Linked DNA regions of Homo sapiens. The protein of the gene in region 3 interacts with the protein of the main gene of each other region in a biochemical or structural test. Each region holds a gene or a part of one and is shown on either strand. Other genes may lie near its edges.

Evidence for each region. The genes of interacting proteins can lie anywhere in the genome.
Region 1: the proteins of UBE2N (region 3) and TRIM21 form a complex in vitro, tested with the Homo sapiens proteins (3 studies listed by BioGRID, with this or other methods).
Region 2: the proteins of UBE2N (region 3) and RNF135 form a complex in vitro, tested with the Homo sapiens proteins (4 studies listed by BioGRID).

What each region holds. Positions count from the first base shown.
Region 1 is NC_000011.10:4,384,377-4,390,710, forward strand, and holds the end of TRIM21 (E3 ubiquitin-protein ligase TRIM21), read right to left. Parts: intron 6,083-6,334; 5' UTR 6,034-6,082; coding exon 5,626-6,033; intron 5,374-5,625; coding exon 5,278-5,373; intron 4,155-5,277; coding exon 3,924-4,154; intron 2,615-3,923; coding exon 2,592-2,614; intron 1,882-2,591; coding exon 1,781-1,881; intron 1,478-1,780; coding exon 909-1,477; 3' UTR 521-908; downstream 1-520. UniProt on the Homo sapiens protein: E3 ubiquitin-protein ligase whose activity is dependent on E2 enzymes, UBE2D1, UBE2D2, UBE2E1 and UBE2E2.
Region 2 is NC_000017.11:30,966,505-30,974,058, forward strand, and holds the start of RNF135 (E3 ubiquitin-protein ligase RNF135), read left to right. Parts: upstream 1-4,534; 5' UTR 4,535-4,569; coding exon 4,570-4,941; intron 4,942-4,959; exon of another isoform or gene 4,960-5,242; intron 5,243-7,554.
Region 3 is NC_000012.12:93,405,162-93,410,953, reverse strand, and holds the end of UBE2N (ubiquitin-conjugating enzyme E2 N), read left to right. Parts: intron 1-79; coding exon 80-220; intron 221-874; coding exon 875-915; 3' UTR 916-5,270; downstream 5,271-5,792. UniProt on the Homo sapiens protein: The UBE2V1-UBE2N and UBE2V2-UBE2N heterodimers catalyze the synthesis of non-canonical 'Lys-63'-linked polyubiquitin chains. This type of polyubiquitination does not lead to protein degradation by the proteasome.

The DNA.
Region 1 (6,334 bases), on a different chromosome or scaffold from region 3:
AGAAAGGTGCATTCCAGAGAGAAATAACATTAAAACTGGATATTCCAAGGGGCACAGGAATTGGCCAGTTGTCTAGAACACTGAAAGCATAGGGAAGCCCCAGAGAGCTCCAAGAACTTTGATGTTGTCACTCGTCACTTACTGAGAACATGGACAGAAGGTGCTTCAGGTCTGTGAGGGTCAGAGATGCAGAGGTCACAGAGCTACTCCAGCCCCAGGAGAACTTTGTATTTCAAAAGCAGGTGTTCCCTCATGGTAAGGAGGTAATATCCCCTCGGACAGCGATCAGAGCCCAAATGGCCTTCTATCACCACAGCGGCTATGATGGGGAAGGCAATGATGGGGAAGTACAGAAGACTTGACTTGACCTGGGTCTTCAGTCCAAGATCAAACATTTCAAATGGGACAGTCTAGGCATGAAAAGCACGTGCAGTGTTAAAGACACATCACTATTAATCATATTCAGAGTTCTCAAGTATTTCAGGATTAAGGAACAAGGACTGAATGGGATAGACGGAGGCACAGTTTTTTAAATTTTATTTTTTATTTTTAGGAAGCCCTTTTGCAAACCATACAAGATATAATAGAGATCTCACCAAAGACGACATCCTAGAGATGGAGAGGAGAAAAAAAAAACTTAAGTCCCATAAAGAAGGCAGAAACATGTTTTTGGTTGATCAAGATGAGTTTGGGCCAAATATAAGGAGGCTGCTTCACTGGAGGGAATCACAAAGCCATCTGGGGCAGGAATGTTGATGGTGAAGTGACTTCCCTGCTAAAGCTCGCTTGCTGGGATCCGGATGCCTCTGCAGAGACAAAGGTGGTTCAGAGTTCATGGGGAAAAGAGGCAGGGTTTGTGGCTGAGAAGCGGTGCCAATGGGGAGAGTGGCAGTGTCCAGAGAAAGCCATCAATAGTCAGTGGATCCTTGTGATCCAATATTCAGTGGACAGAGGGTTAGAGGGGCTGTGTTTTTTCCTCCATCATTGAAACCAGGACTGAAGAAGGGCCGCAGAGGTCCTGTAAAGGCACATTCAGAGAAGGAGTAGATGAGGGAGCCATGGTCAGTGATGTTGTAGAAGGAGACCATGCCAGCCTCATAGTCCAGGAAAATCCCAACTTGGCATGGAGGCACCTGAAGGTGGAGGGGAGTCTGGGGGTAGGTGCCAGCCTCATATTTTTGTTTGTTCCACAACCAAATTGTCCAGAAGCCACTCTTGGAACTAAGCAAAAAGTGCCCCTTCCTGCGCACAGAGTCTCTGCAGACACCCAGGTCCCAGGCCTCCTTTCCTGTCACATCTACCTCCCAGTAATGTTTTCCAGAGTGAAAGTGCTGGGCACCCAGGACCATAGGATAACTATCAAATCTCTCTTCATTTCCAGGTATGCTCTGCTGGGTGTCTCCAAGCCTCACTTGTCTCCGATCTTCTGAAAGTATCAGCCACGGATTGGCTGTGTCTGGATCCAGAGTGATGTGGACTGCAGAGAGAGGACCACAGTCAGGCCTTGCATGGGGGGAGTTCACTAAGTCTGTGCCTGTGGTGGGGGGATTTTGTGTAAACTCCAGGGTAAGCATGAGGGGTGAACCTCCCTGTGTGAGGAAATGACCATCAGCCAGTTCTGGCCTTGGTCCTGACCTCTGAAGAAACCATCTTCCTTACCTCCATCTCTGTTCCCCCTGCTCTGACCTGCCATCTCTCCTCCAAGTTGCCATCCAGGCTCCCTGACCCTGGGATCTACTCTGCACCCCATTATCCCCCGCAAAACTAGAACTTGCCTCACCTGCACATGTCCTCAGCATCTTCTTCAGCCCTGGCACATGGCACACACTCCTGAGTTCTGGAGAGGTAATATCCAGGTCCTTCAGGTTCCAGGACTCACTCCTGGGGGAAAGAGAGTTTGAGACTCCTGTCTCCTACTCCTATCCCAAACCCTAACACTATAACCTCCATTGTGGAGGACTCCGATAATTTAATTCAACTCAAATTTACAAAGACCTCTGGTGTTCAAGTCTCCAGGAGTGGGTGTGAGAGGCAAACAATGCAGGATTTAGTTTCTACCCAGGAGTTCCTGGTTATAGGAGGCTCTGCAGCATGTGGACAGTCTGTCTCTCCTGTCTAAGCCTGAGGTCACCTGGCAAATGCATTCAATTTCATTTTATAGGCAAGCAATCTGAGACAGGCTGAATCACTTCTGCAAGGAACCTCAAGGAGTCTTGCCCACACTGTGGGTCTTACTCATGGCTCTTTTTGGGAGGTAACTGGTTAGATTCCACTGAGAAAAGGAGTCCCAGCAGGCCATGTCCCAGTAGTCTGAATTCCGGGAAGACCCAGAACTTCCCAGGATTTCCCTGTTTGGCAGGACTTTACTGTGTGAAGATGTTATGATCCAACTACTGTGGGCAATCACCAATTGAGATGTCCATTTATTAGCTTTCTGAGACCAGAAAATATTTTATAGAGAATGAAGTTTTTGAGAATAGGAAGCCAGATGGGGAAAACTTCAGTGCATGTACTTCTAATTCAATCACCTTTGTCATAGGCATATATGCTTTCTGCTGGCCCCTCTTCTAACAAAGAAAACTCCTCCTTACCTTTCCAGGACAATTATCACCTCCTGAGGAGAAAAGAGACAGAAAGTAAGTTCTGGATTGCTGGATCGCCACTGAGACATCAGCCCTGTGGGTGATGTGATCCATCTTTGGTCCCTGGGGCACTGTTCCTCTCCTTCCTCTGGTCCTAGGCCCCAGAGATGATTCTGACCAGCTCAAAGCAGAAAGGATGTGTGGCTGCTTGTGAGGTAACCAGAAGCCCAGCATGGATGTGACCTATGGCTAGGGAAGGGTTATCAGTTTCAGGACTCTGACTCAAAGACCAGTTTTTTTTTTTTTTCCCCAGGGGAGAAAGAAAGGAGGGCAGAGAGGGCACATAGCCCAGCTTGGCTTAAGCCCAGAAACAATCACAGGCAGAGAATGGCCGAGTTCAGGTGTCCAGAAACCACTCTATTCCACTTGTGGGCTAGCATTGTTTGGGAAGGAAAGGTTGGTTAGTTAAAGCTCCCTTGGGTACTTAATGTTGCCTCTTCCTGTATGTGAAACCAAATCACTGAGAATATTTTTGTCGTAGGGATTAGGCGCCATTACATGGGAGCTAGCAGGCTCCTAGACTCAGTCAAAAGTGTGTTGGAAAGCCTGGTTTACAGACAGGTGTAGTGGCTCACTCTTGTAATCCCAGCACTTTGGGAGGCTGAGGGGGGCAGATCACCTACGGTTGGGAGTTTGAGACCAGCCTGACCAACATGGAGAAATCCCATCTCTACTAGGGATGCAAAATTAGCCAGGTGTGGTGATGTGAGGCTGAGGCAGGAGAATCGCTTGAACCCGGGAGGCGGAGGTTGCAGTGAGCCAAGATCACACCATTGCACTCCAGCCTGGGCAACAAGAGTGAAACTCTGTCTCATAAATAAATAAATAAATAAATAAATAGAAAGCCTGGTTCAATGTTGGGCAGAAGAGAGCCTGTCAAGTCAACCCAATACAATTAGGTTTTCTGCACAAACCTGAAAGCAATGGCTCATGACCACTCTGAGTGACACTGAACAGGTGTGGGAAAAGAGCTGTAGAATGTTAGAACAGAAGGGACTTGTGAGACCATCTAGTCCATAGTTTCCTACAGTGAGGCAAACATATCATTGGTGGATGCAAGATGATTCTAAGTGCAACATAAATTGATTTTTAAAAAGGTCCTGTACTTATTTTCATCTTTACTTTGCGTCTTGAACGCGAACCTTTCATGGGTTTGAATTCTACTTCATTTAAGAACATTCCAGGGACCAGGTGTCCATTTATTCAAATGGCAGTTCCAGATAGCTCTGGTCTTTTTCAGTTATTCCCTGAATTGTAGAAGGAAACCCCTCCCTGTCTCACCTGCAGCAGTTCCAGTGCTGAGCTGTGGCACCTTCGATCTAGCTCTGAGATGAGCTCCTGTAGGGCCTGGCTCTGCTGGGCCAGCTTGGCCTCTTTCTCCCCCAGGATTCTCAGCTGCTCCCTCTCATCCTTCTCCAGCTCCTGCAGCTGCCTCTGTTCTTCTTCAACCAGGAAGTTTTTTTGCTGCACAAACTCTGCGTGAATCCTAGATTTCTGTGTTTCCACTGTTTTCTTTAGTGTCAAGGGAAAGGGAGAGGTGGTTTTTATGAAAATCTCCCAAGCTTTGGGAATGGAGGTATTGGTACCTATTCCTATCCCCAAGAGACTCCACTCTGTGCTGTCTGGGAAAACACACACACATGCACACGCACACGCGCGCACACACACACACACACAATTTTGCTTGGGAGGTAGGTGGTTGAGGTTTCTGGGACAGTGAGGGGAATGGACTTGGTGAGGGCACACTGTAGCTGGCCTACAACGACAGCTACACGAATATATGGCATTGGGGACTTTTTCCAACCTCTCTTCCAAGCCCAGTCACCACTCAAATGTGCCCCTGTGTCTTCCTGTCTCAGTGAGTTACTGAGAAAAAAATCACCTGTTCCCACCTCCAACAACCTCACAAAGCCAGGCTCACGCCACCACCTCTAAGTCCTGGGAAAGGGGGCTTGGGGACATTCTTTGCTTTTCCTCTCCTGTTAGTAACTGGAAGGTCACTCGATGACACATGAGGGTCTGTTTTGTCACCACAACCCAACTCACACCCTACCTCAATCCCAAATCTTCCTCTTCTGTGATCTACTGGGGATGGGCTCCTTCTTCTCCCCTCTCATCCCTGACATGCCCCACCTCTCCTAGGAAATCATCAGTGCAGAACAAACATTGATTCTTCATTATATTTTGGACCAGAGATCTGGTCATGGTCAAGTAACCACCTGGTCAGATGGTTTCCTTAAGTTTATTCCTCACAGCCCTTGTCATTTCCTGAAAGGCTTAGCTAGCAGTTGGGTTTCTACTAGGATATTTGTCTCACACATCCAGGTGCTGACGCCATCACACCTCTGAGACTAGACTCAGAGGAGCTCGAAACTTTAGGGTATAGCTAGATCCTCTCAGCACCTTCTTCCAGGATTCTTGATCTTCAGGCCTGATGGGGAGCTCCCCTTTGAACCTGCATCATTTTTATTCCCCTCTATTTGTAAACCTAGAGAGCAGCTGGCTTCTGGAGAGTGAGACGGACCAACTCTATCACTGCTCAGAGAGGCACAGCTACGGTTAAGGCTGTGAGTTGAGGACTCTGGACCCTGCCCAGCCTTCCAGCCTAAGATCTCCTTCAGGATGTCATTCTTACCTTCCAGTCTGCTCTCTTTATTGCAATTTCCACTTCCAACTTCTCAGCCAACTCCTGCTTTCTTCTCAGTTCCCCTAATGCCACCTGGAGCTTCTCCTGCAGAGAAAGACAGCTTATTCGTCCCCCATGCAAACCAAGTAATAGGGTGGGGTAATCCTTGCAGCATTTTCTCATGCATATCTCCTACGCCTGGGGAATGAGGTTGGGTTTAACTTATAATTCTCCTCCTACATTAGACATGGAGAGAGGTAAACCCCTCCTTTCTCTAACCCCTCCAATCCAGAGGTGGTCCTCTCCCATTCCCTGCTCTGAAAACGAAGCACTCACCAGGTGTCTCTTAGGCCTCACCTGGTACTCCTGTGCAGCCTCCTCAAGAGGGACCATGGCGTGGTCACGGTGTTTCCGAGACTGGGCACATACCCAGCAAAGGGCCTTCCCATCTTTCTCACAGAACAGGTGAAGTCTCTCTCCATGCACTGCACACCGTTCCCCCTGTGTGCCCTCTCTGGCCTCCTGGCTGATTTCTTTAAGGTTGTTCACCATGTTGGCTAGCTGTCGATTGGGCCGGAGATTCTTGAGCAGAAAGCGCTGCCGGCACACAGGACAGACGCTGCCCCCACCTTTCCCAACCTGAGAGATGCATTCCTGGCAGAAGCTGTGGCCACACTCGATGCTCACAGGCTCCACGAAGGGGTCCAGGCAGATAGGGCATGTGACCTCCTCCCACATCATTGTCAAGCGTGCTGCTGAAGCCATTGTCAAGTGTGCCGTTAAACAGCAGTGTGGAGACCTTTAGGGGGTTTGGCTGGGAGAGAAGAAGAAAGGGAAAAGAGAATATGAGAAAGTCTGTGTAAGAAAAACAAAAAGTCAACATAATCCCTATCAAAATACCAATGACATTCTTCACAAAAATAGGAAAAAACAATCCTAAAATTTATATGGAATCACAAAAGACTCAGAATAGCCAAAGCTATCCTGAGCAAAAAGAACAAAACTGGAGGAATCACATCATCTGACGTCAAATTATACTGTAGAGCTAAAGTAACCCAAACAGCAT
Region 2 (7,554 bases), on a different chromosome or scaffold from region 3:
TTTTGTTTTTGAGATGGAGTCTCGCTGTCGCCCAGGCTGGAGTGCAGTGGCGCGATCTTGGCTCACTGCAGGCTCTGCCTCCCAGGGTTCACACCATTCTCCTGCCTCAGCCTCCCGAGTAGCTGAGACTACAGGCGCCCGCCACCGTGCCTGGCTAATTTTTTTTTTTTTTTTGTATTTTTAGTAGAGACGCGGTTTCACCGTGTTTGCCAGGATGGTCTTGATCTCTTGACCTCGTGATCCACACGCCTCGGCCTCCCAAAGTGCTGGGATTACAGGTGTGAGCCACCGCGCCCGACCTCAAATTCTTGCTTTCAACAAAAATTAAAGAAAAATCAAATCAAGTTGTTAATTGAGAGATTATCACTATATGACTTTTTTGCATATATCTCAAAAAGTATTCAACAAAATGAGTGACAATTTTGTCATCTATTTATACATGTGAACAAGATTTCTCGGCACACATAAAAACATAAAAGAAATAGAATTTATTGCAAAAGTTTGTCTATCATTAAGTAATGTTCATTCATAGATAAATGCTTCTTTTTTTGACAGAGTCTTGCTCTGTTGCCCAGACTGGAGTGCAGTGGTGCCATTTCAGCTCACTACAACCTCCGTCTCCTAAGTTCAAGCAATTCTCCTGCCTCGGCCTCTGGAGTAGCTGGGACCTCAGGCCACCATGCCCAGCTAATTTTTGTATTTTTTGGTAGAGGCAGGGTTTCACCAGGTTGGCCAGGCTGGTTTCAAACTCCTGACCTCAAGTGTTCCGCTCACCTTGGCCTCTCAAAGTGCTGGGATTACAGATGTGAGCCACCGTGCCTGGGCATAAATGCATTTTTGAAAGAAATGAGCCCATCTGTCTTATTAATAGCTATCATTCCAATAAAATGTTTACTGTCTTTAAAAGTTATTTTATTTATATAAAAGTTATAAATTGCAGCATACTTTTCTTTTGTTTGACTGCTAATAGTAATTATATTGATAATTAAATCCAGGGGAAAAAATTTACCAAGAGCCTTTTTGTCACAGGAAGTTAAGAAGAATTAAAAATTTAATACACATACATACTTTTGTTGTAGAGAAGTATTACAAAGTGATAAAAGACTTTCATGCATGAAATATATTGCTTTGGAATGTAATTCTGTGGAGGAAATGGAATGGAAATACAAGTTCAGAAAGATAAAAGAATGACAAAATTTCTTTTTTTTTTTTTTTGAGACGGAGTCTTGCCCTGTTGCCGAGGCTGGAGTGCAATGGTGCCATCTTGGCTCATGGCAACCTTCACCTCCCGGGTTCAAATGATTCTCTTGCCTCAGCCTCCTGAGTAGCTGGGATTACAGGTGCCTGCAACTACGCCCAGCTAATTTTTTTTTGTATTTTTCGAACTCCTGACCTCATGATCCGCCTGCCTCGGCCTCCCAAAGTCCTGGGATTACAGGCATGAGCCACCGCACTCGGCCAAGAATGACAAAATGTCTGATGTAGGCTGAGCGCGGTGGCTCACCTCTGTAATCCTAGCACTTGGGAGGATGAGGTGGGCGGATCACCTGAGGTCAGGAGTTCGAGACAAGCCTGGCCAACATGGAGAAACCCTGTCAACATGGGGAAACCCCATCTCTACTAAAAATACAAAATTAGCCGGGCATGGTGGCGAGCGCCTGTAATCTCAGCTACTCCGGAGGCTGAGGCAGGAGAATGGTTTGAACCCGGGAGGTGGAGGTTGCAGTGAGACGAGATTGTGCCACTCCACTCCACTCCAGCCTGGGCAACAAAGTGAGACTCCATCTCAAAAAAAAAAAAAATCTGATATAAATGAAGAATTTGCTAATATATTTTTACTACCAGAGCTGACCACTCTCCCCCTTCCCCCTTTCTTTCTTTCTTTTTTTTTTTTCTTTTGAGACAGAGTCTTGCTCTGTCGCCCAGGCTGGAGTGCAGTGGTGCGAACTCAGCTCACTGCAAGCTCCGCCTCCTGGGTTCAGGTCATTCTCCTCCCTCAGCCTCCTGAGTAGCTGGGACTACAGGCTCCCGCCGTCACGCCCGGCTAATTTTTTTTGTATTTTTTAGTAGAGACGGGGTTTCACCGTGTTAGCCAGAATGGTCTCAATCTCCTGACCTCATGATCCGCCCGCCTCAGCCTCCCAAAGTGCTGGGATTACAGGCGTGAGCCACTGCGCCCGGCCCCCACTTCCCCCTTTCTTATAACCACTGCATGATTTTGCATAAAACTTTTAGGGCGTGTCCAAGAAAAAAGTTTGAAAACTACTGGTTAACTCACTCTTTCCAGAAACTTGGCTGTGAAATGGAGAAGAGGAGAGCTGGTTCCAGGGAGGCTCAGGTCAAAGGTGATTTTATTTTATTTTTTAATTTTTAATTTTTTTGAGACTAGGTCTAGCTCCTTCCCCAGGCTGGAGTGAAGTGGTGTGATCACAGCTAACCACAGTCTTGACCTCCTGAGATCTCATGGCTCATTACAGCCTCCACCTCCCTGGCTCAAGCAATCCTCCCACCTCAGTCTCCTGAGTAGCTGGGATCACAGGCCTGCGCTACCATGTCTAGGTAGTTTTTGTATTTTTTTTGTAGAGGCAAGGTTTCACCATGTTGCTCAGGCAGGTCTCGAACTCCTGAGTTCAGGCAATCCACCTGCCTCAGCCTCCCAAAGTGCTGAGATTACAGGCATAAGCCACCACGCCCCGCCAGTGATTTCATTTTTTAAGTTGGAAGATCTGAGCATGTTTAAGTGTTTAGTATCATGCCCGTTTTACAGAAAAAAAGAGGCTCTTAGAAACTACGATTTTACTCCGATGCGGAGATTCTAGAACAAGATCCAGGTAATACATCAGTCAGGATAGGCTAGGTTATGCTGTAGCAGCACACACCCACTAAATCTCAGTAAGCTGAATACATCCTAGTTTTCTTCTCCCTCTTACTACGTATCCTAGGGTGCGTTGGCAGGGAGTCTGCTCATCTTAGCCACTCAGTGACCCAGGTCACCGGATGATGGTTTCATCTCCATAATTGGGGCAGCTGGCAGAAAGGGATACAATGGCCGGCTCAGTCGCCTTTAAAGCTGGTGGGAAGTAACATATTACCTCTGTGTGTTTCAAGTGGGTCAGGGAAGTGCCAGTCCTACCATGTGCCCAGAAAGGGAAAGCACTGGAAACGTTGATGAGCAGCGCTGCCTACTCCATGACACTTCCAGTATTAGAAATAACCACAAACGCTTTTTTTTCTTTCTTTTCTTTCTTTTTTTTCTTTTTTTTTTTTTTTTTTTTTTTGAGACGGAGTCTCCCTATGTCGCCCAGGCTGGAGTGCAGTGGCGCAGTCTTGGCTCACTGAAACCTCCGCCTCCCGGGTTCAAGAGATTCTCCTGCCTCAGCCTCCCAAGTAGCTGGGATTACAGGCATGCGCCAGGGCGCCTGGCTTTTCTTTTCTTTTCTTTTTGTATTTTCAGTAGAGATGAGGGTTCACCATGTTGGCCAGGCTGGTCTTGAACTCCTGACTTCAAGTGATCCAAAGGTCGGCTACAAACTTGTATTATCTGATACCTACTTTGAGCCCAGGCCAGAAAGGATAAAGTAAAGCATGAGACGTTGTTAGTTCATTTCAACAGATTGGGGAGTTGTGGGTTTTAGTCTCTGACGCTTCATTGTTACCATGAGAGCCTGCAAGTTTTTCTTTTTTCTCTTTTTTTTTTTTTTAACCTCTTTGGGTCATCTGGGAGGACGTGGTGCTCTTTTAGCTCTAACATTTTCTGGTTGCAATGCGTTTAGGACTGGGATGCGAAGTGAGTGAGTGAGTGAGCCTTCTCAGGAAAACACTTTCTAGAATTTTGTCCGAGTGTCTGTTGGGAAACGCGCTTACATCCCGCAGAAGGCGGTAAGGACACAGCGCACAACTCTGCATTATACCTGCGAGTTAAAAAGCCAAGGGTTCGCTCACTCAACCTTGAATGCGCGTCAGAATCACCTGGGGGAGGTTTTACAAAATACCCGTGCTCCACCCAAGACAATGAAATCAGACTCCCTGCGAGCGGGGCCGAACATCAGCATTTTTGAGGACGCTCCCTGTGGCTGTGCATCGGTGATCTTTAATCCCCTGCTACTTGTTAGAGGAGCTGGATGACACTTCGTGGGCTCATTCTCATAAATAAGCTGCTGAATGGAGTCCTCTCCTCCCAAGAGTTGTCGGTGTTGCATCTTTTTTGTTGTTTATTTTTTTTTAAGCCAACGGACGAAGACATCCAACGGTGCTGCATCTTAATGGAGGGACATCCAGCTAAAGGGAATCTTGGAGACCTCCGCGGGTTTCTAGCAGCTCGCGGCATGTTGGTTTCCCAGGGCAAGAGGCCGCCACTGAAGGTCAGCTCTGTCTTTCCAGCTGGGCACTGGAGGCTCTAAGTCTGTTTTCAGCAGGATCGGAGGAAGGAGACGGGGTGGCGCCAAGGAAGGAGGAGAAAAGGCGGCCGAGAAAAGGAGGAGGGCAAGGGGAAGAGGAAGGGCGAGGGAGGAGCCTGAGGAGACTCGCCCGGCTCAACCCCGACGTCCGCGCCCCGGCCGCCTGTTGGCCATGGCGGGCCTGGGCCTGGGCTCCGCCGTTCCCGTGTGGCTGGCCGAGGACGACCTCGGCTGCATCATCTGCCAGGGGCTGCTGGACTGGCCCGCCACGCTGCCCTGCGGCCACAGCTTCTGCCGCCACTGCCTGGAGGCCCTGTGGGGCGCCCGCGACGCCCGCCGCTGGGCCTGCCCCACTTGCCGCCAGGGCGCCGCGCAGCAGCCGCACCTGCGGAAGAACACGCTACTGCAGGACCTGGCCGACAAGTACCGCCGCGCCGCACGCGAGATACAGGCGGGCTCCGACCCTGCCCACTGCCCCTGCCCGGGCTCCAGTTCCCTCTCCAGCGCGGCCGCGAGGCCCCGGCGCCGCCCGGAACTGCAGCGGGTAGGGAGGCCGGGCCCGCAGCTCCCCTGGCTCCCCCGGGCTGCCCGCCGCCTGACCCTTTCCCATGTGGCTCGAACCCCTTTCCTCAGCCGTTCTACTTTTACGTTCCTTTTCTCAGTCTAAAAGTCGAGTTCCGCTCTTCGGAGGCACTTTGGAAAGTTCATAAAAGTATGAAGAAGTAGAAAAAAACAAATTCCCCATCTTCCGAAAGCTTGTCAACTTAGCTGTTACACAGCTTGGCATATTTCAACTTCTTCCCAATCGATCTTCGGTCTCTTTCTCTGAAACTTGTAAAATTGTGGTAAGATCTATATAACATTAAAACTGGCCATTTTAACCTTTTTCTTTATTTCTTTGAGACGGAGTCTCGCTCTGTCGCCCAGGCTGGATGGAGTGCAATGGCGTGCGTGATCTCGGCTCACTGCAACCTCCGCCCCCCAGGGTCGAGTGATTCTCTTGCTTCAGGCTCGAGAGTAGCTGGGATTACAGGCGTGCGCCATCACGCCCGGCTAATTTTGGTATTTTTAGTAGAGACGGGGTTTCGACATGTTAGCCAGGCTAGTCTCAAACTCTTGACCACAGATGATCCGTCCGCCTCGGCCTCCCAAAGTGCTGGGATTACAGTCATGAGCCACAGCGCCTGGCCTCATTTTAACCTTTTATTTTTTTGAGACGGAGTTTTGCTTTGTGGCCCAGGCTGGAGTGCAGTGGCGCCATCTTGTCTCACTGCAAGCTCCGCCTCCCGGGTTCACGCCATTCTCCTGCCTCAGCCTCCCGAGTAACTGGGACTACAGGCGCCCGCCACCACGCCTGGCTAATTTTTTGTATGTTTTTTTCTTTTTTTAAAAAATAGGGACGGGGTTTCACCGTTGTTAGCCAGGATGGTCTCGATCTTCTGACCTCGTGATCTGCCCGCCTCGGCTTCCTAAAGTGCTGGGATTACAGGTGTGAGCCACCGCGCCCCGCCTATTTTAACCATTTTTAAGTGTACAATTCAGTGACAAATTAGTTACATTTCCTGTTGTGCAACTATCACTTCTGTTTCCAAAACTGTTTCATCATCATAAACAGAAACTTTGTACTCATTAAGCAGTAACTCCTCATTTCTCCTCCCTCTAGCCCCTGCTCACATCTAAGCTACTTTCTGTATCTGAGTTTGCCTGTTCTAGATATTTCATATAACTGGAATCGTTCAATGTTTGTCCCTTTGTGCCTGGTTTCTTTCACTTAGCATAGTGTTTTCAAAGTTCATTCATGTTGTAGCATGTGTCAGAACTTTATTCCTTTTATGGGGCTGAATGATATTCCATTGGGTGGATGTGCCACATTTTTTTTGTTTGTTTTGTTTTGAGATGGAGTCTTGCTCTGTTGCCAGGCTGGAGTGTAGTGGCATGATCTTGGCTCACTGCAACCTCTGCCCCCTGGGTTCAAGTGATTCTCCTGCCTCAGCCTCCCAAGTAGCTGGGACTACAGGCATGCACCACCACACCCAGGTAATTTTTGTATTTTTAGTAGAGACGGGTTTTCACCATGTTGGCCAGGATGGTCTCGATCTCTTGACCTTGTGATCTGCCCACCTCGGCCTCCGGAAGTGTTGGGATTACAGGCGTGAGCCACCGCACCCAGCCTCACTGTGATTTTGATCTGGATTTCCTTAATGACTAATGATGTTGCCCATCTTTTCTTGTGCTTGTTGGTCATTTATAGATCTTCATTGCAGAAATGTCTATTCAAGTCCTTTGACCATTTTAAAATTGGGTTGTTTATCTTTTTGTTGTTGAGTTTTAGAGATTCCTTCTATATTCTGGATATCAAATTAGATATGACTCACAGATATATTATAAAATATATATTCTCCCATTCTAAGCGTTGTCACTTTCTTGATGGTATCCTTTGATGTGCAAAAGTTTTAAATTTAATTTTTATCTGTTGTTTTCTTTTGTTGCTTGTGCTTCTGTTGTCATATTTACAAATCCATTGCCAAATCTCAGTTCATGAAGATTTACCCCTATGTTTTCTTCTAAGAGTTTTTTTTTTTTTGAAACGAGGTCTCGCTCCTTTCCCAGGGATGGAGTGCAGTGACACGATCTCAGCTCACTGCAGCCTCCACCTCCCGGGTTCAAGCAATTCTCCTGCCTCAGCCTCCAAAGTATTTGGGATTACAGGCGCCTGCCACCACACCTGGATAATTTTTGTATTTTTAGTAGAGACGGGGTTTCACTGTGGGCCAGGCTGGTCTTGAACTGCTGACCTCAAGTGATCTGCCTACCTTGGCCTCCCAAAGTGTTGGGATTACAGGCATGAGCCACTGTGCCAGCCTCTTCTAAGAGTTTTATGGTTTTAGCTTACGTTTAGGTAATTGGTCAATTTTAAGTTAATTTTTGTATATGGTGTGAATTAGGGGTCCAACTTCATTCTTTTGTATGTGGAAATCCAATTGTCTTGGTACCATTTGTTGAAGAGTCTATTCTCCATTGATTAGACTTGGCATCCTTGTCAACAATCATTTGGCTGGGCCAGGCATGTGGTTCACACCTGTAATCCCAGCACTTTGGGAGGCCAAAGTTTCATCTAGAGATGAAACCCCATCTCTAGAAAAATACAAAAAATTAG
Region 3 (5,792 bases):
AGGTCTGTGGGAGGGAAGTGAAGCAGTTCTGGGCCTGTTTTTTTCATGCTTTATCATACTGGGCCTGTTGCCTTCATAGATAAGTGGTCCCCAGCACTGCAGATCCGCACAGTTCTGCTATCGATCCAGGCCTTGTTAAGTGCTCCCAATCCAGATGATCCATTAGCAAATGATGTAGCGGAGCAGTGGAAGACCAACGAAGCCCAAGCCATAGAAACAGGTATCTAATATTCATTCTCCTTCACACCACTTCCACTTTTACAAATTTGTATTACCACTTAAACTTTTCTAAAGCTCTTGGCAAGGAAAAGAAATAGAAAAAAGTATAATAAGTGAGATCCTGCTTATAGTATGTAAATACGTCTTAACAAAATGGCTTGCTATGGGACCCCCCAAATATAAAGACAACCTGTAATTGAAAGATCTTGGAGTCTCTTGTAACTACACCTGGTTTAACAAATACTGAGTGCATACCATTTATCTAGTTATATGTAAAGAATACTGGAAAACTTGAACTGTTTTTGTAACCCATTTGATTAAAGTATTCAGCTGTTTATGGCTACGGAATTTGGAGTCAAGAAGCTTCTGCTACAGATTTTAAGAAAATTAGTGGGGAGAATTGTGTATCTAGAAATGGACAACTTGATTCATCCTCTTGAATTTTCTAGAACTTCTTAATTTTATTGTAGTGTTTTGGTAATTGGACATTTACAAAATCTTTCAGCCCTGATCCAATTTATAGAAAAAGGCGTGAATTTAACAGATTACAGCATGACATTTCCATAATTAATAGTGGTTGTTTGCCATTTATAGTTTGGAAAGTAACATATTGAACTAAGTAAAATAATAATCGTATGTTTGTTTCTGTCTACAGCTAGAGCATGGACTAGGCTATATGCCATGAATAATATTTAAATTGATACGATCATCAAGTGTGCATCACTTCTCCTGTTCTGCCAAGACTTCCTCCTCTTTGTTTGCATTTAATGGACACAGTCTTAGAAACATTACAGAATAAAAAAGCCCAGACATCTTCAGTCCTTTGGTGATTAAATGCACATTAGCAAATCTATGTCTTGTCCTGATTCACTGTCATAAAGCATGAGCAGAGGCTAGAAGTATCATCTGGATTGTTGTGAAACGTTTAAAAGCAGTGGCCCCTCCCTGCTTTTATTCATTTCCCCCATCCTGGTTTAAGTATAAAGCACTGTGAATGAAGGTAGTTGTCAGGTTAGCTGCAGGGGTGTGGGTGTTTTTATTTTATTTTATTTTATTTTATTTTTGAGGGGGGAGGTAGTTTAATTTTATGGGCTCCTTTCCCCCTTTTTTGGTGATCTAATTGCATTGGTTAAAAGCAGCTAACCAGGTCTTTAGAATATGCTCTAGCCAAGTCTAACTTTATTTAGACGCTGTAGATGGACAAGCTTGATTGTTGGAACCAAAATGGGAACATTAAACAAACATCACAGCCCTCACTAATAACATTGCTGTCAAGTGTAGATTCCCCCCTTCAAAAAAAGCTTGTGACCATTTTGTATGGCTTGTCTGGAAACTTCTGTAAATCTTATGTTTTAGTAAAATATTTTTTGTTATTCTACTTTGCCTTTGTACAGTTTATTTTACTGTGTTTATTTCATTTTCCCAATTTGACAATCGTATTTTAAAATTGAAACTGATGGAACATTCTTTCTTGGTCTTCACCATCTGACAAATTGAATGGCAAGAGGTGGATTTTGCCAGTTTCTTTTCACTGATGCAGATTTGTGTTAAGATAGTACTGAATGGAGTATTTATAAACTGGCCCTGAGCATGCATAAAGCATCAGTATCTGACCTTTTTTTAACCTTCTAGGAATTTGAAATAAATGTGTTTGTGTTGTCTGATTAGATGATCATTGGTGTCTTGCCACAATGTTTAAAAATTACTGTACAGGAAAGTCACAGCAAAGATAGCAGTTGTGACTGACATGTAGGACTTTCACAGTTGTGCCACATTTTTGCCTAAAATTTGGGTTATGACATTTTTCTTGGTTCTTATCTGAAAATTTCATCTGTAACCTTTCATGTGTGTTAAGAAACACTGATCTGATCATTTGGGATTTGCTGAGGCATTTGTGAGTCTTCCTTATAAACCTGATGAGCAGATCTCAACTATCTAGCTTGTGTGTCATCAGAAAGGTTTATCCCTTTGAGAGTATCAAGTCCTCAGTTAATGATTCTTGCTTTCATCCCTCCAGTATTTGCTGTGGGAGCTCGTTTTATTCTTTAATTTGGAATTCAGTAATTTTTCTTCTTTATTGACGAATTCCTCCCCTCACAAAACTGTTCTTTCCCACCTCTCTCCATATCTAATTCCTGATTCTTGTTATTTTTAAGTCATAAATGTAGCCAGTCATAAATACATAAATGTTAACCTTCGGGTTGCAACCTTGTCTCTTGCAGTTTAAGGTAATGGATATTGTAGCCCATTTGAATTTTCTTCACTCTTATTCTCGTAATTCTGGAGTTTCTTCAGATTGTGGTGTATTTTATTGTGCTCCTATGTAAGATGAAGAATTAACTATTAAAATTACATTTTCAACATACAAAAGCTTTTGATGACTGGTAACTGGTATCCTTCCAAATAAATGCATTGCTTGGTAACAAATGTTAGCTTAATTCAGAATGAAATAGTTAACAACCCTAATATTGTAAAATTTGAAAACTGATAGCAGCTGTCATTTATAACAATTCTTGGGCTGTTTAAAGGGTACATTTGACTATAGCTAAGGAAATTGAATCTCACTTTAAAAATGAACCACACAAAACTTCAAGAAACGAAATAGAAATCAACATTTACTGCCCGTAATATTGCTCATGGTTATAGCTAGTATCACATAGTGATTTACAAACCATGAAATTCCAGATTTAAATCTGTTGCACTACAAAAATGTCTAAATGATGTCTGCTAAATTTGTGAGTTATAGAAGTACAGAAATAAGTCATTTTCATTTCAAATGCAGTGAATTTCTAATTTCATGGTATCATATTTTTTTCCTTTGCAGTTTTGGTAAGACTCCCCCATTACTTTGCTAAGACTTGCTTTCTCAACCAGTGGGATGAAACGAGTGCCAGTGTGTTGACTGAGCCTTCTTAGGACTTAAGGGGCTCTGGGAGAGGCCAAGGCAGCAGTTGAAAACTGCAGCTTCACCTGGCCTTTGGGCCTGTTTTCCCTGGCCCACACAGTGTGGCTGGTTAAAACATTCTGAATTTGATGCCAACATTTTTAAAAATTGGGAGATTTGCATGAAAATCCAGAATTCGGGTAACTTTTGAATGATCTGAAGATCTGGCAACAGTAGACCTGACCCACCTTTGTGCACGGGACTTAACTGAGAGGATCTGAGTAGCAGACACCCTAAGAGCATGTCATTGTCTTCTCACCAGTTACTCTCCAGTTGGCTAGAGTCCCCTCCGAGCACACCTGCTAGTCCTTCCCCCTTGTAAGCCTTTGACTTTGTAATCCCTGGGCTAAAGGAAACACATTATTCAACAAAAGTGTTTCATGTTTGCCCACTAGTTGTTGGGGATGATTAGGTGGTGAGTGAATGGCATGGGGCTTTCCTTTGGGGACCATATACTCTAATGGGGAAGGGGGACAGACAAATAGTTGTAACTCTGTCATGGAAAAGAGAAGTAACTTGGACAGACTTTTGGATTCAGGCCAGATGAACATCTCCAGGCAGAGGGAACAGCAGCATCTGCAAAGTCCTGGGAGAGAAGAAAAGAATCTGAACATTAAGTGGCTTCCTGAAAATCGACTGCCCAGGCCGGGCACAGTGGCTCATGCCTGTAATCCCAGCACTTTAGGAGGCCAAGGCAGGAGGATCACTTGAGTCCAGGAGTTTGTGACCAGCCTGGCTAACATAGTGGGACCCAGTCTTTATTTAAAAGAAAATTGCCCGTTAAGAGGCTTTTCTAAAATCTTGAGGTGTTGATAGGAGCTTTATGTTTTTTGACTTGATTGTTGTAGTCTACTTCGCTGCGATTTGCTTCTGCTCTAGTTATCCTTCATCCTCTCAAAGGCTGTCTAGCAAGATCTTAGGTCTAAAGTAAAGTCATCTCTTGGTATTTGTCGGGAACTGGTTCTAGGACTTCCTTTGGATATCCAAATTCGCAGATGCTCAAGTCTCTGGAATAAAATGATGTTGTATATGCATACAATCTACACAAATCCTCCCGCTTATGTTAATATTTAGATTACTTATAATACCTATTATAATGTAAGTGCTATGTAAATAGTTACACTATTGTTTAAGGAATAATGACAAAAATATACATGTTGACTACAGACACAATGTTTTTTGGAATATTTTGTCTGGTTGTTTGAATCCACGGAAGTGGAACCCATGGATATGGAGGGCCAACTATATAGAACCTTACTCTAGACCAAGAATGTACTTGTAAAACAATTTCAAAGAAGCACTTAAAAATAAGATTAAATACAAACCAACAGATAAAAGTCACAGGTGCTATGGTTGTTTGATGGAGAATGGGGAAGGAAATCTGTCCTAAAAGACATTATAAACACAGTGACCTAAGTGGAACTAAATTGGATCGAGGAAATGATAGGAATAGGCCTCATTTTTCTGTTGAATGGTTCAGGAACCTTTTTTTTTTTTTTTTTTTTTTTTTTTTTTGGCTGCTCTAGCCACTTTCTAGCTCTGTAGTTTAGGCTGGAGTGCTGTGGCATGATCTTGGCTCACTGCAGGTTCTGCCTCCCGCGTTCAAGCGATTCTCCTGCCTCAGCCTCCTGAGGAGCTGGGACTACAGACACCTGCCACCACACCTGGCTAATTTTTTGTATTTTTAGTAGAGACGGGGTTTCACCATGTTGGGCCAGGATGGTCTCCATCTCCTGACCTCGTGATCTGCCCGCCTCGGCCTCCCAAAGTGCTGGGATTACAGGCGTGAGCCACCGTGCCCAGCCCTGCCACATCTTTTTTGTTAGTTGCAGTAGCAATACAACCTTATCTAGAAAAGCTGGCCAAAAAAGAAAATACCATGATAATAGGGTACCTAATTTATTGCTTTATTTAAGAAAAATGTAATATTTCATTCGAATAAGTACTTTTGGGCTGGGATGATATTTCATTTAGCTACTTGGCATGCCACCCATCTTAGGGAATTATATGAGGGTTTATACTTTAAATAACATAAAAAGCAAAACATGCTGAATGTAATAATTTGAGAGAAGTGTAAATAATAAAAATCTGTCATCTACCACCTGGACTAGTAATATATTGTTTGTTTTCTTAACTATACACTCACCCCTGCACTCATCTCCATTTTATCGTGGAAGTCAGGTATATTCCAAGAGTTGGCTTTATGGTACTAACTTGCCATTAGCTGCCATGCTGGGAGCTGGACTAAAATTTTTCCTCTTGTGTGGAATCCAATATTAAGAGTTCGGGTCTCCCCGGCCCTCTCCCAGTTTCATCTTGTCACCCTTGAGCTGATCTCATTTCATGTGTCTTGTATGGCCCTGCTGGGTGGCACTGGTAAGTGTATGAACATAGACTTGATACCAACCTCTGTCTCTACTACTGAATTGATCACATGATTTTTCTTTCTCAGTTTTATTTTTAAAGACTCCTGATCCATCTTACCATATGACTGCTTTTGAAATAGTTCCATGATGTAGATTAGTAAATATCGATAGTTCTTAAGTTTTATTATAACCTAGTAAGTTTACAAAGTCTCCTGGCTTAAGGTCGGGAGTAGATATCAGATCTGGCAAAAGCAGCTTAGATG